Regions from separate parts of the Homo sapiens genome. Here region 1 is linked to region 2. A link means that fine-mapping ties the variant in region 2 to the expression of a gene that starts in the linked region. Tissue or cell type: minor salivary gland. Region 2 holds a variant in brackets; the other region holds the start of a gene. All regions are shown on one strand. Distances are from middle to middle.

Region 1 (8,000 bases), 360 kb before region 2:
ACTCACCTGACCCCACCCGGCCTTTCATGCTGGTGCCCTGGGGGCATCCAGGCCTTGTCCTCTTCCCCGTGGCTCTGCCCAGCCTGGTCCATGGGCTGCCTGGGACCTCCCCAGACATCTTCAGCCCTCTCAGCCCACTGAGGCCATCAGACCCCGGGGCCTTGTCCTCCCACGTGCTCCAAGCAGGAACCAGCCAGGTGCCACTGCCCCCTTCTCCAGGCCTGGACAGGGGCTGCCCCTGCCTCGTGAGCACCCCTGGGGCCCCGGCCCCGGGCCAGGCCGCTGCGTGTTCTGGATGACTCACAGCTTCCGCACACTCCCTGTGTGTGCCTCTTCCCGCCTCTCGTCCAGTCTCCTCTCTCAAGCTGGAGTGAGCGCAGCTTCGTCCTTCCCTGGGGCAGCATGGGGGCAGAACTTGAGGGGCCTGGATCTGCTCCTCTCTCTGAATTGACCCCCACAGCTAACCCCCCTGTGCCCCTTTGCCTCTGAGCCCTCCCATAGGCTGTTCCCTCTGCCTGGAATGCTCTTCCGGTTCAACCTTGATCCCACGACCCAGCCCCATGCTGGTGCCCTGCAGGTGTGTTTGTCCGATGGAGACACGTGTTCAGGGCTCAGCCAGCCCAGGGGGTCAAGGGCAGTAAGTCCTAGGCCCAGCTGTGGGGCTGCCGTCATGAGCCCACCGTCCCCAGAAGGTCAGCGTGACAGCGTCCTGGGGGTCAAGGGAAGAAGAGGCTGTGCCGGCAGGTCTGGTTTGTGGGGAGGGTGTGCACCTGATGGGGACGAGGCTATGACCAAAGGCACAGATGTGGGCTGTGGGTGGCCGGGACCAGACTGGGGAGCTCGGCAGGGCCATGAGGCTGGGGCCTGGGACGGACAGGGACCGGGGTCCTGGGGGCTTCAGGCTGGACAAGGTGGGGAGCAGGGTGGCCCGAGGCTTGTGGCCGGGTCGAATGGGCTGGGGGTCAAGGGCGTCTTCACCCGAGAGTGAGGGCACTGGCGCCTCTGTCTGCCCCTCGTGGCTGCCGGCCCTGCAGGGAGAGCGCCCGGTGTCAAATCAATTGGAGAAATTGATCTTGGCAGGGATTTCCGAGCCATCTGCTCGGTCCCCAAAGCCTTCTGAGAGGGTGAACATGGCACCCAAATCCCTGGGGAGGCAGGTCGAGGGGGGTGCTGCGGTGTGAACGGGCCTCGGTTTCCCCCAGTGCACCCTGGATGCACCCCTCTTTGGTGACTCAAGAGGCAGAGATTTGTGGACCCCCTGCAGAAGCCCACCCTGCCCCGCCCAGAGCTGTCAAGAAGCTGTGAGGGGCAGCTCCAGCCTAAGACCCCAGGCAGCTTCCATCATTTTTCACCCTGTTCACGAATTCCACGCCTCCCGCTTCCTGCTGGGCATTTGGCCGCCCCCGTCCCGGCCTTGTCTGGCTCAGCGGGGCTGGGGCCGGGGGCGGGCCCTGTGTCGGGCCTCGGGGGAGCCCAGGCTCCGCTCACTCTGCGCTGGCTGCACTCGGCTCCAGGGACAATATTTGCTCGGGGAAAGAATCAAACATTTATCCTCGCATTTATTCAGGGGAGCAGTTGTCAAACACGCGTGTCCTCACTGCTTGGATGTTTCCCAGGCCTGGCCTCAGCCTGGGCCTTTCTCCTGCCAGGATTTGTGCCCACTCAGCCGCTCCCTGTGCCCTCCAGGAGGTTGAGGTCCTGCTCTGGGCAGACGGCGGGAGCACGGGTCGGGGCCAGTGCTGGGCAGGGCAGAGGGGTCCCTGAGGCCGAGTGATGCCGCACCCTGGTCCTTCTCCTTCCAGCCTCAGAGCAAGGCCAAGGTGCCCCAGAGACCCCAGCAAGGCTCTCTGGGCCCACGTTCTGGGCCTGGGGCGCCAGGAAAAGCTGGTGTTTGGGGTGGGGGAGGTAGGACAATTCTAGGTGGGAGGCGGCGGGATTCCCAGGGCCTGCCATTTGCGTCACCCGCGCGGCCGCTGCCTCTCAGCAGTGCTGTCTGCTGTGGCCTGGGGAGCAGCTCCCCGCTGCGCCTGGATGACCGTCCTCTGCTCCTGTCCCCGTTCCCTCTCCCGGGCCAGAGCCCCTGCCCCAAAGCAGAAGAGACGGCCGCAGGTTCCCTGTCCTCTCCAAGCCCTGACCCTCAGGTCCTCCTGCAGCAGGAGCACCTCTCCCTAGTGCCCTCAGGCACCCCACACTGGACCCCTCCAGACAGAGCCAATCTCAGCACGGCACAGCCATCTGCACCCCCAGCAGCCTGGAGGGCTGCAGCCTTCACCCCAACCTCAGCCCCCAGCTCTCCTCTGCACCAGCCGCCTCCCCACCTCGCCCCTGGCTAGGCCAGCGCCCAAGCCCCCACACTCCCCTCTCTGAGACAGCAACTGCCGCCCGCAGCCTCCCATGGGGGGTGTCGGGCAGCAGGGTGGGGCCCCCAGGACAGGCGTGACCCTGGCTGACCAGGGGCTGCCCAGCCACACTCCCCTTACACCTGCATCCCCAGAGTCCACACAGTGCAGGGCAAGCGAGGGGCTGGGGCCCTGGCCAGGGACTCCGGGGACCTGAGTCAAGCGCTTTCGGGTGTCTTTAACTTAGCAGAGCAGCCTTGGACGGGGACCCGGTGGCTCGGAGCTGACATGCAGCTGGTGGGCCGGGCAGGTCAGCTCCGCCGTCAGGAAGACCCTCTCGCCTGGCCGGCCTTCTGGAAAAGTCGCTCCCCAGAGGGAAGGCCGGCATGGGCTGGGGCCAGATGGAGGGTGAGGCGGCCCTGAGCACTTGCACGGCATGGCGGAGCCCCCCACCGGTCTGGCCACCTCCCCTACCTCCCGGGAGCCCCCGCTGTGTGGCAGACGGTTAGAGGGGATGGTCGGTCACGGTGGGGAACCTACTGCCCTGTGTCTACCCCAGCCTGGCTTCAGCCAGCTCTGTCCTCACACCACCGCCGGGGAGCATCCTGACTGGCAGGTCATGGGTGGGGGTCACCGCAGTGCAACCTCCGCTCCTGGGGGTGACACGGGGCCGCCCACCCCCCGCCTGCACTCTCACAGCTTGCTGGTCTGCATAAGCCCGTTGGCTGCGGCGCGGTGCGCGGGTGGCGTGGCCTCCTGCTGCTGCCGGATCCTGTCTGGACGCGGCTCCGTGGCGTCAGCGTCCTTGGCACCAGAGCCCTTGCGGAGGCACAGAACCTTCTGGAAGCTCTGGCGGAAGTTGTCAGAGAGGAAGCCGTAGAGGACGGGGTTGGCACAGCTGTTGGCGTAGGAGAGGATGACCACGAAGAAGTAGAGGCCGGCGGAGGCGGGCTCCTGGGGCAGCGCCACGGCCAGGTTGACGATGTTGACGGTGAAGAAGGGCAGCCAACATCCCGCAAACACCAGCACCACCACCAACACCATGCGCGTCACCTTCCGCTCCGAGCGCCGCCGCACGCAGCCCACGCGCACGCCCGCCGCCCTCACCTTCACCACGATGAGCAGGTAGCACAGGCAGATGACCAGCAGCGGCGCGAAGAAGCCCAGCACGGCCGTGTAGATGATGAAGACGGCGCCCCACAGCCCCACGGGCTCCGGCCAGCTGGCGTTGCAGGTACCGCCCTCCTGCACGTCCGCGAACACCAGGAGCGGCAGCGACATGCACAGAGACAGGACCCAGGCCGCGGCGCTCGCCAGCTTGGCCACACGCGGGCGGCGCCAGCGGGCCGAGCTCAGCGGGTGCACCACTGCCAGGTAGCGGTCCACGCTCATGACTGTCAGGCAGAAGACACTGGTGAACTGGTTGACGCCGTCCAGCGTCATGACCAGGCGGCACAGGACGGGGCCGAAGGGCCAGAAGGACGCGGCGTTCTGCGTGGCCAGGAAAGGCAGCCCCAGCATGTACAGGACGTCGGCCACTGCCAGGTTGAGAATGTAGATGTTGGTGACGGTCTTCATCTTGGCGAAGCGCAGCACCACGTAGATGACCAGCGTGTTCCCGCCCAGCCCGGCCGCACACACCAGCAGGTACAGCACGGGCACCAGCACCGCCCGGGCCCCTGCCGAGGGCGCCGGCCCCACCAGCGTCCTGTTGTCACCGCCTCCAGAGGCAGCCCCCGGGGAGGAGGCGTTCCAGCTGGGCGTGGAGGCTGGGAACAGGGGCTCCATGGCGGCAGCCCTGGGGTGCGTCAGGCTCTGCAAGAGAAGAAGGGAGGACGCCAGGGTGGTGAGTCCCTGAACCAGCACATGCAGGCATTCCTTCCTCCTGGGCCCCAGCCCCGCCTGCCAGGAGGCGCGGGATCACCGGGTAAACACGATTAGTCATGTTTAGCTTGGCCGGGAATCACGTTAAGCAAATTGTTTGGAAAATAAGCCAGGAGAGGAAGGAGCGGCGGGCAGGTGGCCCCGGGAGCCCAGACGGACGGCTGCTGTCGATATGGCGACAGCTGCCCTGTGGCCGCCCCTGCACCCAGATGGCGCCTGGCCTGGCCGCAGCATCCTGGAGTCTGAGGCCAGCACCTGCGTCTCCCTGAAGCCCCTCAGAGCCTGCCCTGCAGTGCTGCTGCCCTCGTCTACCAGGTAAGGAGCCGAGGCCCAGCGGGCGGCCCCTCCCGGGACACACAGGGAGAGGTGGCAGTGGAGAGAGATGGGGCCGGTGGTCGGCCCCCTGTCCGCCTGGGATGAATGGCACCTGGCTAGGACGACCTGAGAAGTGGCTGGACGTGGTGTCGCCACCGCAGCCTCGAGGGACTTTCACCGGGGTGCCCGCTGCCCGTTGGCCCCGAACCTCTCTCCAGGCCAGCGCAGGGACCGTCACCCCCACAGCAATGACAGACATCTGTAAACCCAGGCGGGGGCACAGCACAGGGCCAGAGAGACACCACCCTCCCCACGGGGCGGCTGCAGAGAAGCAAACACACAAACCACACAGAGTGGTCACACGGAGCCCCAGGAGTCACACAGGGCGAAGGAGGGGGGACTGCGGGCGGGGGCTGCACACCCTGCAGCCCGGAGGAGAAGCCGCGGTGGGGGGTGTGGGCGGGTCAGAGGCATAGCGTATGGGGGCTGCAGCCACCTGACACTGCCCAGTCCCATCGGAGCTTTGAGCCCCCTCCCAGGCCCTGGAACCCCCCACTGTGGCCCAGAGAGAGAACAGGGGAGACTTGGGGGAGGGGAGGGAGGGGTGTCCATGGAGAAGGGTGGGCTGGGAATGGTGACGTCTGTGGGTCCAAGGCCATGGGCACGTGTGTACCTCGTATATTGTTTTTGTATTTTTCTGCATGTTTGAAATCATTCATAAAAATGATACTCCGGCTGGGTGCAGTGGCTCAAGCCTGTCATCCCAGCACTGTGGGAGGCCGAGGCGGGTGGATCACCTGAGGACAGGAGTTCAAGACCAGCCTGGGCAACATGGTGAGACCCCCGTCTCTACAAAAAATACAAAAATTAGCCAAGTGTGGTGGCGGGCGCCTGTAGTCCCAGCCACTGAGGAGGCTGAGTCAGGAGGATCATTTGAGCCCAGGAGGTTGAGGCTGCAGTGAGCTGTGATTACACCACTGCACGCCAGCCTGGGTGACTGAGCAAGACCCTGTCTCAAAAAGAAGATCAATGCCTCCCCTGACGAGTGGGGCGGAGGAAGTCCGGATGTTTGGGTTGACCCTGGAGCTGTGTGACTCTGGGGGTGGCCAGCAGAGAATCAAAGTGTCCCCTAGGATCCAGACCAGGGACAAGCCCCTCCCTGGGGGACCTCGGCCTGAGCAGGGGTGGAGCCGGCTGTGGTGACCTCAGCATGTGCCGTCTGGAGCCCTGGGGCTGCTCAGCTGACCGGCCCTGACCCTGGAGGCACCTCAGAGCACAGGACGACCCCAGCAGCTGCCAGGAAAGGCCACAGTCCTGGCTGGGGGCTGTGGGGCTGGGCCAAGGCCACTGAAATCTGGTAGACAAGGAAAGGAGAGCTGGGGACGGGGGAGCCCAGAACACAAGGCTGACAGCACAAAGAGAAAGCCCTCTGTCCCCAACAAACCTAGAAATCAACATCCCCAAGCTCGCATGGCCCAAACACACTAAGAAATACGACTCAGAAAATCAACAGGGCCAGTGGACCCATGGATCCATCTCAGGGAGATAAAAATAACGAGCAAACAGGTACGCTTAGGCTATGTTTAAATATGTGCAGGATCCACAGAGACAGCATGGATAAAATGTTAGGAAATACATTTGGCTTCTGTCTAAGGAGTAAAATGAACAGGCATCTATTTTTAAAAATTACAAATCCTGGATGTAAAAAATACAATCATTTAAGTGGAAAAAAACACTACAAAAGTGGTCAGAACCAACTCCAGTGTGGACAGCACTGAAGAGAGAATTGGTGAATGGGAAGAGGGTTGAAAGATTCACTGGAGCAGGGTGCTGGCACAAGGTCCAGAGAGGGCTCTGTGGGGTGGGCAGGGGGAGAGCATGGCTGGGCTCCCCCAGAACTGGCGACAGGATCCCTTCTGGGAGCGCACCTGTCCCAAGCAGCATAAAGGAATGAAAGAGCATCCCCATCAAGCTGCGGCATCTGGGCAGGGACGCCAGCCAGAGAGACACCAGCCAGAGAGACAGGACGGATTCCCACAGGCAGGAGCCAGAGTGCAGCAGAATCCTCAGCAGGGACGGAGCAGTGGCCTCCACGCAGACCCCGGGGTGGGAGAAGAGGGGAGGTGGGGAGGGAGAAAGAAAGACAGGGTGTGGGGAGAGAGGGAGGGAGAGGGAGAGGGAGAGGGAGAGGGAGAGGGAGGGGGTGGCAGGGAGGGAGAGAGAAAGATAGGGTATGGGGGAGAGGGAGGGGGAGGCGGGGAGGGAGAGAGAAAACAGGGTAGGGGGAGAGAGAGAGGAGGGAGAGGGAGAGGGATGGGGAGGCGGGGAGGAGAGAGGGAGAGAGGGAGGGAGAGGGAGGGGGAGGGGAGGAGAGAGGGAGAGAGGGAGGGAAAGGGAGGGGAGGTGAGGGGGGAGGGAGAGGGAGGGGGAGGTGGGGAGGGAGAGAGAAAAGGTGGGGGGAGAGGGAGGGGGAGGAGGGGGAGGGAGAGAGAGGGGGAGGTGGGGAGGGAGAGAGAAAGACAGGGTGGGGGGAGAGAGGGAGGGAGAGAGAGTGGGGGGGGAGAGAGAGAGACAGGGTAGGGGGAGAGAGGGAGGGAGGGAGAGGGAGAGGGAGGGGAAGAGGCCTGTGGCTCTCCGCTCCCCAGGGACCAGCATGGAAATCCAACACGCCATGTTTGCGGCTCCCTCTGGCTGCCTGTGGAGCATGCATTCCGGAAGGACAGTGGTCTGGAGACAGCCCGCGGGCTGCGTGGGAGTCCAGGTGGGTGGGATGGCGGCCCAGGTGCAGAGGCCTCTGAGCTGCACCCTCCCTGGGGAGGCACTTTCGGCCCATTCCTCCGTAGCAAGGAGGCCAGGTGGAGGGGACAGAGGAGCCACCGATGGTGGGACAGGGAGAGGGCGGCTGTCGGGCTCCGGTCCATCTCCAACACAGGCCCTGGGTCCCCAGCACGTGTGGTTCCCAAATGCCTGTTTGATTTTTTGTTTTCGAGATGGGGTCTTGCTCTGTTGCCCGAGCTGGATCGAAGTGGTGCTGTGATCACAGCTCACTGCAGCCTCGACCTGTGCTCAAGTGATCCTCCTGCCTCAGCCTCCCTGTCTTTGTAGCTTCTTAGCTTCAGAGGAGCCTCAGGGTTCCTCCAAGGCCACTCCCATGCCCAGAGCCCAGCGAGGGGCTCCACAGGCTGCCAGGTCCCCGGCTCTGCGGCCCCCAGTGCTCCACCTCCGGAGTTAGACTTCAGAGCAGCAAAGGACACAAATAGACCATTATTGCTGTACCTGACTCTTGGAACATAATTCTGCAAGAGCCGTTATTTGGAAGCAGTATCCTCTGAATCATAAAATTACGCACTCACGGGGAATTGTCCCGGTGGCCCTGTCCCTTGTGGGTGGGGGATTCACTGGAGGGGGAGCCAGCAGTAGGAGCTTTCTGATCCCGAGCCCTCGGCCACGAAGGGATCTGCT
Region 2 (8,000 bases):
GACCCGCGGAAGGGGACAGGCAGGCCCTGCCCTGGGGGAGCGCACGTGCCGGCGGGAGTCGGGATACACCCGGCGATCTCACGGGCTAGAGCCCCAGGGAAACGGGGCTGCGCGTCTTTGTCGTGGAATGAAGGGAAGTCTGCCTTGGAGAGGGGCGGTCCTGGCCCCAGAACCAGCCGGGGGCTCGCGTGGGGCGGCTGGAGCCCAGGGAGCCGGTGGGAAAGCGGCTCCCCGGGATGAGACAGCGTCCAGGCGCCAGCACCCCCATGACTCTGCCTCGGGGAGACTGCTGGGGGCGCTCCGCTGACTCGGACACCCAGCGCCAGCCAGAGCCCGGGAGGACATCCTTCCATTTCCCTCCTACAGCCTGAGCGATGAGCCCCAGTGGGCGGTGAAGGGATGGGGGGTGGGGTCTGAGGGAGAAGGGCATGGAGGAGGGGCTGACACGGAGGAGAGCTTGAGCAGGCCCAAGAAGACAGATGCTGGCTCTCAGGCGAGTGTGGTGGGAGGAAAGCCGGATGTCACAGGCGGGGGCCTCTGGCACCTGCCAGCTACAGGGAAGGCAGACAGCCCCGGGAGTGGGGAGATCACCTTCCTTCTCCAGAAAACAACACACAAAAAGACTGAGTTCCTGGAGGTGACCTTGTGAAGCTGGGGGTGGGAAGCGCAAGTGGAAGAGCCGAGCTCTGGGTCAGGCAGCTGGGCCACGACCTCCACACCCAGGGTAGGGCTGAACACCCGTGAATGTCGGGGGTTGTCTATGCGTGCCCTGGCCTAGCTCCTCCTTAGCCATCCGTGGCTGGGGTCTAGAGCCCCTGCAGGGACAGAGGCTGCTTCCAGACATGGGTATGCCGCAGACCACAGCCCCCAGCTCCCAAGTGCAGAGTCTCACAGGCCTGCCCACGTTGGCCCCAGCCCCACCCAGCTCAGCGTGTCCTGTCTCCTGGGGGCCTGGAACGGCCCTCCCAGGAAAGGAAGGGTGTATGTACACTGAGCTCTAGGGGGAGCTGACAGCGCCCATTCCTGTCCTGCTGCCTGCATTATTCCCTGCACCTAGAGCAGTTACCTAGGAGGCTTACTGGATGAATGCACCTAATTGGACTCTAGCGTGCACTCTCCACTCTTCTTTTTTTTTTTTTTTTTTTTTTTTTTTTTTTTTTGAGACTTGAGTCTCGCTCTTTCGCCCAGGTTGGAGTGCAGTGGCGCAGTCTTGGCTCACTGCAACCTCTGCCTTCCAGGTTCAAGTGATTCCTCTGCCTCAGCCTTTTGAGTAGCTGGGATTACAGATGCATGCCACCATGTCTGGCTAATTTTTTGTGTTTTATTAGAGACGGTTTCACCATGTTGGCCAGGATGGTCTCCATCTCCTGACCTCATGATCTGCTTGCCTGGGCCTCCCAAAGTGTTGGGATTACAGGCGTGAGCCACTGCGCCCAACCTCCCCACTCCTCTCCCGTCCACACCAGGCACTCTGCTGCTTGGCCTTTGGGCACTCTGCAGCCACCTGTACCTGTGTGAACTGGCACTTGCCTGGCGGTGTCTGTGATCCACAGGCCCCAGGCTCCTGTAGCTCCTGCCCACCTGCTCACCCACACTGTCTCCCTATCTCCCATGCCACTTTGGCCACCTGTCCCCAGGGCAGGCATGAAGCCCCTGGTCTAATGCTCCAAGACCCATTTGGGCACCGTGGTGCTCCTGTGGCCCTGTGTCTCATGAGAAGACAGCTGGTTGCAAAGCCAGGGCTTTCTCTGGGAGGGTCTGTAGGTGCAAGGCTCAGGCACTTCCTGAGACAGGTAGGTAGAAGCCAGGGTTCGGCCAGGGCCCAGCCCAGGGTGTTTGTGAACAGGTGGACTTGGGTGTGGCTGAAAAGGAGAGGTTGTAGGAAGCTGGCCAGAGAATCAGGGCAAGTGCCAAAGGTAAGGGGGTTGCTCGGCCCACGGGAAAGCCTCTCCAAGACAGGAGTGGAGGAGGCGGTGCAGGAGGGCACACGGGCTACCTCCTTTTCTAGTGTTTGCAGAAGTGTTTGGGCTGGGGGCAGATGGATGTAAGGCTATGGGCCCCAGGGAGTGGTCAGGGCTGAAGATGAAAAAGTGGAGGTTGTCCAAGGGTTATTGGAGGCTGCCCCAGAGGAGCGGTCCTGTGCCTGAGCCCTCAGCGTGCCACAGTTGGGAGAGGAGAGAAGCAGCAAGGAACCTGAGGAGGGGCAGAAGGTGGGAGAACCCCCACAGTGCATGACACCCAGTGGCTGCGCTCCTCACCCATCCTCATCAGCCCTGCGGCAGGCAGGTGATCTGTGTGAAAGGGTAAGTCTCTTGCACGTGCAGTGGAAGTCCCAGGGCGGCGCTGGAGGTGACCCCCCTCCCCAGGTGTCCACAGAGGGCATGGCACTCATCAGGCATCTGCATCCGCTAACCTAGAGAAAGGACCGTGTTTGTGGGCCCTGCACAGCTGTGTCCCTCACACAGCCTCAGTTTCCCCCTTGAAAGCTGGGGGCTTCATCTGCCTGGGCAGGGCCTCTGGCCTCCACCCCCACCCCGGCCCAGGCGAGAATGGAAAGCCATTTCTGGGGCTCAGCCCAGGGGTCCCTGGCCCTTGAGCCATGGCTGTCTCTTTCCCAGGATCCGAGGGGTTGGGGTGAGAGGAGGCAGCTCACACAGGGCCAGGTGTCCTGGAACACCCCCACCCAGGGGCTTTTAGCCTCGGAGCCTTGGGCTGTGGCTGTCCCAAACCTCACTGGCCCTTTATGCGGCTGAAAGGCCGAGGAGGAAGGCGGAGACAGTGACAATGGGGCCAGTGGCGGGAAACGGTCCTTAGAGACCCCATTGTGCACCCCGCCCGCCGGAAACAGGCAACAAGCAGGACCCTGCAGAGGGGACCCCACACCCTTCGGGCTCCTCGCCACGTCTGGATGCTCAGCACGTCGAAGGGGCCTGAGGACAGAGGGGCCCATTCTTCCCCAAGGGCGGGACGGGGCCAAGGATGACTCTGCGGGCTCACAGCAGCCATGGGGGAAGTCGGCACCCTGCCAGCCTGCAGCCCCTTCCCTCACAGGCCTGGCTCAGAGCCGGAGCGCTGTGCGCCCGCCTGCCCCCACCGTACCCGAGGGACCCTATGCCCCTCTGCCCCTTTCCTCTCCTGCTGAGCCCCAGAAGCACCTGGCACGGGAGGCAAGTGGGAGCCAGCCAGGGAAGCAGGCAAGGGTGCGGGCAAGGACGGGGCTGGTGGGTGCAGCAGAGCAGAAGCTTGCATGAGTGCAGGTCCCCACGTGCCCCCCACCCAGCAGCGGCCCCTCCCCGGAATGTGGGTGTAGCTCCTCCTGACATCTGCTCTCCCTCTCAGTTGCCAAATGGTCTTGAACAAGATACCATTCCCCTGAGCCTCAGTCTCCCGCCAGGAGGCAGGAATTGGAGCCATCCTCACAGCTGCGAGGCAGGCCCAAGGCTGGGCTGGACACAGGAGACCAGGTCCACAGCAGCTTGCGTGAACAGAGTTCTTATTGATAGTCCCATCACCTCCAAAGCAGTGGGCCCACCCTCCCTCCTACCAGCCCCTCCCCAGCACCCAGCCCCTCAGTGCAGCGCCACCTCGCAGGGGTGGAGGTGGGCAGCACGGGCAGCCTCGTAGGCACGGCGGAACTCCTGGAATCGTGGGGCACAGCCCAGCCGGGCCTCCCCAAAGCGGCTCCAGCCCATGAAGAGGAAGGTGCCTGGGCCCGGGTGGACGCCACAGCGCAGTGGGGTACGAATGGAGGTCAGCCCCTGGTCCCCGGATCGCCCCGCCTGGAACAGCGGCGGTGTCTGGCGGAGGACACGGGCGGCCACCACAGTGATGACAGACTCCTGCAGCTCCACGTCATGGGTGACCCCATGGATGATCCCGTGAATTACTGTGGGGAGGCATGTGGCTGCGGTAGGCATTCAGGGGAAGGCAGGCTCCAGGCTCCCCCCATGGCGGGGACACTCACCGAAGTCGCTGGTGCATGCGGCCAGGAGCAGCTCAGCGTCGCTGCAGGGCCTGCAGGCACCTGGCATGCAGAGGGGGTGGTGAGGAGAGGCCCTGCCCTCTCCCGGCATCACCCCAGGCCCCGTCCCTTGTCCGCACAAGCGGCAGGAGGCAGCAGGCAAATGAGCAGAGCCCACGCTCAGGGCCTGATGGCACCTGGGGGTCCCAGAGAGCTACACAGCAGATGTGCACGCCCTCGGCGACACCTGTACTCAGGAAACACACTTGCAGGCGCGTACCTCCAAGGCAGGAATGCACACAGACGTGGGCCTGGGGGCCATGCCTAGCGATCAGCTGTCCTGGGCCGCCCTCCTGCACTCCCATCTGACATATGCACCCCAGCATCTGGGACCCCTCTAGTTTCCCGGATCTGAGGTCTGAAGAGCAGCAGCCCAGCTAGGGTGATAGGAAGTGGGGGCAGAGGAAGGGTGGTCTGGGGTCCCTGGCCCAGGGCCAGGGGGCAGAATAGCGAGAGCCCATCCCTTTCAGGGTCAGGCGCCAAGCTCCAGGAGAGCCAAGCAAGAGCTGGGCCTGGTGCCCTGCAGGGAGGCGAGCGGCGTCTCCATGGTGACCGGGCTGCACACTGGACTTTTGTTGGTTGGGCTGGGGGAGGGGAGAGAGGTCACCGCTGGGCCAGGGAGCCCCGGACAGCTTTGGCCGGAGGCTTCGATTCTG[T/C]CCCCACCATCTCTTCCCCCAACCGTTCAGGGACCAGAGGCCCAGGATTGCTGGGCCCGGCCTCCCCTTCCCTCCACTCTGCCCCTGCCAGCTCTTTCCAGAGATGAATCGGGAAGGGAGGGCGGGGAGGCCATCCCTCCCCAGCAGTCCCAGGCTGTGTGGCCTGACAAGCCCATCCAACCCTTGTAGCTCACTTTTTCCTTCTGCAGTGGGGCCGACAAGGCACATTCCCGCCAAGCCCAGGCAGGGTAAGACTTCGGGACTCCCACCCTGTCCCAACCAGACCGCCACTCACCGTCTACGCCGAGACCGTGGGCCTGCGGGGGCAGCTCGGGGCGCCCGTCCTCGCGCAGCTCAAAGCGGAAGGCGGCCACGCGGCGGCTGATGTCCTGGTGCGGCGTGGCCTGCAGGAAGAGGGCCCGGCGCTCGCGGGGACCCCAGCGCACGCAGCGGCCCCCTGCCGGGCCCGGGCCCTCGGCCAGCAGCAGCTCCAGGGCGCCCCCTGCGCGCTCCGCGAAGACCTGGGCGCCCGCGAAGGGCCGCACCGGCCGCAGACAGGCGATGCCGGGCCGCGCTCTGGGATCGGGGCCGCCCAGGGTCAGGCGCAGCGCCCCAGCCGGGTACAGCCACTCAACCGCGCCCTCCGCACAGGCCAGGGCCAGCTGCCCCACGCTGCCGGGCTCCTGGGTGAGGCCGCTGGGGACAGGACGGGACGGGGCGCTGAGACGGGGGCGGGTCCCCGCCCGGCGCAGCCCCCGCTCCCTCCCGAGGCCGCCTCGCGGATGGGGAAACCGGCCCAGCGCTCTGCGCGCTCCGAGGGGCGCCTGGGGGGTCCTAGCCGCAGCGCACCCCGTCCTAAGTGCGGGGACAGCCCCCCGGACCGTACCTGCCCCTCCAGCTGCAGCGCTCCTCGGAGTAGCCGGCGCGGGCAGCCGGGGCCAGGAGGCCGCAGCACAGCGCGCAGAGCAGCGCCGCGGCCGGGAACCCCATGGCACGGCGGGCGGCGTCCGGGGAGTCGGGGCTCTCACCACCGCTGCCCCGGCGGGGCGCGGGTCCGGGCGGCGGCGGGAGCAGCCGGGGGCGCCGGCCGCCCGGCCCCGGCGAAGCCCCCAAGCCCGCGGCCGCTCCGCCTGCCGCGCAGCCCCAGCGCCGGGGCCGCCTTGGAGCGGGTCGGGAAGGGGGCGGGGCCTGCGGCGTGTCGGCCAGTCGCGGCGCGGCCCGGAACTTTCCGCCAATAGCAGGCGCGGGGCGGAGCGGGGGCGGGGCCGGAGCTCGGGCGCCGCCGGAGGACTATCCCACGGTCCAAGCGCCTCGAGGGTTGGGGGGGGCCTTGGCGCGGAAGGGAGGCTCCTTGCCCGCCCCGCGCTGTGCGTCTCTCCTTCGCCGCGCCCTCACCCTGGCCTCGCCCCCCGCGCTGTCCCGATCGGAGTCCTGGAGCCTCTGATGGAGCCGAGGTTTTGATGTCCACTGGAACCTCGGGGTGGCGGTAGGGAAGGTGGCCCACCTGGTGGTTCCGCCTCGCGGGCGGCCGGGCCTGCTCCTTCCTAACACTGGGACCTGGGCCTGTTGGCCACATCCCTCCCAACCAGGTCCGGTCCTGCTGACCAGAGGCCGGTGGAGCCCCAGAGGAGAGGGGTCATGACTCCAGAGGCGGGGAAGGCCTGGCCTGGGGGCTGCGCCTTGGAGCGGGGCCAGGCCTCGGGTTTTGGTAAGGCCGTCTGCAGGAGGGGGTCCTGCTGAAGAGCGCGCAGCCCGCAGGCTTAGGCCCCTTTCCTCAGACCTAGCGGCACCCCATAGTTGCCGGATGACCGACCCCGGGCCAGACGGGGCTCCTGGAGGGGCGTGAATGGAGCAGCCACGGGCACCCCTGCAGGCCTGCAGCACGTGGAGACACAGGAGCTGGGAGGACACCCCTGGGCCACAGGAGCAGCCCCCACCAAGATGAAACAAGCAGAAACAGGCGATTCGCAAACACACTGTAGCCTCAGGCTGGAGCAGTGTGGGATTCCCAGCATCCGGGACTGCTGAGTTGGCCTGATGGGAGGAAGTGGGCAGTGGCTGGCCAGGTGGACAGGAAGAGAATGGGGGAGAGCAGACAGCCTGGGTCAAGGGCCTGAGGAAGGAGCTCTTGGCAGCCCAGTGAAACCCCAGGGCATGGGTGGTGGGTGGGGACGACAGGTCAGATCACAGAAGGCCTAAGGCACAAGCAAAGGGGTCCCACTACATACTGAACCCCTTACGGACGACAGAAGCTTTAGCCGGGGACTGCAAGGACCAGCATAGACTGTGCAGCCTGAAGATGTGAACATTCCGTCCCCTGCCCCCAAACCTCCTGCCACCCGGCGCTCGAAACTCATGGTGGACAGATGAGTTCACCAGTGGCAGTCGGACAGATGAGGCCAGATGGCTCAGTGGCAGTGGGAGGCTGGATCCCACTGACCAGGCCCTCCCTCAACCCCAGGGCCCTCCCAGGCCAAACAGGAACAAGGCGCCTACTGGGCTCGGCCAGCCCCTTGCTCTGGGCGAGGTGCAGGTCAGAAGTAGCCATCACAATCCCCAAAAGGTGGAAGACTCCCAAAGGCCTGTCTGCAGCTGAGTGGACAAGCAAGTGCAGTGGGTCCATTTTTTTTTTTTTTTTTGAGACGGAATCTCGTTCTGTCGCCCAGGCTGGAGTGCAGTGGCTCGATCTCGGCTCACTGCAACCTCTGCCTCCTGGGTTCATGCCATTCTCCTGCCTCAGCCTCCCGAGCAGCTGAGACTACAGGCGCCCGCCACCACACCCGGCTAAATTTTTGTATTTTTTCTTTTTTTAGTAGAGAGGGTGTTTCACCGTGTTAGCCAGGATGGTCTCGATCTCCTGACCTCGTGATCTGCCCGCCTTGGCCTCCCAAAGTGCTGGGATTACAGATGTGAGCCACCGCGCCCGGCCTCTTTTTTTTTTTTTTTTTTTTTTTTTTTTTTGAGATGGAGTTTCGCTCTTTGCCCAGTCTGGAGTGCAATGGCGCGATCTTGGCTCACTGCAACCTCCACCTCCTGGGTTCAAGCGATTCTCCTGCGTCAGCCTCCCGAGCAGCTGGGATTACAGGCATGTGCCATCATGCCGGCTAATTTTGTATTTTTAGTAGAGACGAGGTTTCTCCATGCTGGTCAGGCTGGTCTTGAACTCCCGACCTCAGGTGATCCGCCCACCTCAGCCTCCCAAAGTGTTGGGATTACAGGCATGAGCCACGGCACCCCCTGGCGGTGGGTCCATTATTAAGCCATAAAAAGGAATGAAGTTCTGGTCCCTTGACACCCGCTACAGCCTGGATGAGCCTGGAGGC

What was found. PIP is the estimated chance that this variant, and not a neighbour inherited with it, causes the effect.
Region 1: SSTR5-AS1 starts here. The variant in region 2 is fine-mapped to the expression of SSTR5-AS1 in minor salivary gland (GTEx, PIP 0.99).

What each region holds. Positions count from the first base shown.
Region 1 is chr16:1,074,996-1,082,995 of GRCh38, reverse strand. It overlaps SSTR5-AS1 (SSTR5 antisense RNA 1), which reads left to right and starts at 4,265. Exons shown (of 4, transcript NR_027242.1): 1 at 4,265-4,538; 2 at 5,284-5,372. SSTR5 (somatostatin receptor 5) reads right to left here. Exons shown (of 2, transcript NM_001172560.3): 2 at 1,542-4,154. The coding sequence starts at 4,127. The coding sequence ends at 3,033. RefSeq lists enhancers at 1-65, 3,847-4,511.
Region 2 is chr16:712,957-720,956 of GRCh38, reverse strand. It overlaps METRN (meteorin, glial cell differentiation regulator), which reads right to left and starts at 5,839. Exons shown (of 4, transcript NM_024042.4): 1 at 5,564-5,839; 2 at 4,973-5,373; 3 at 3,965-4,024; 4 at 1,302-3,886. The coding sequence starts at 5,667. The coding sequence ends at 3,570. RefSeq lists silencers at 1-170, 5,081-5,140, 5,241-5,670, 5,771-6,080 and enhancers at 1-527, 528-1,235, 3,833-4,430, 4,431-5,028, 5,029-5,626 and 1 more. The variant T/C (reference allele first, on the strand shown) is at 4,678.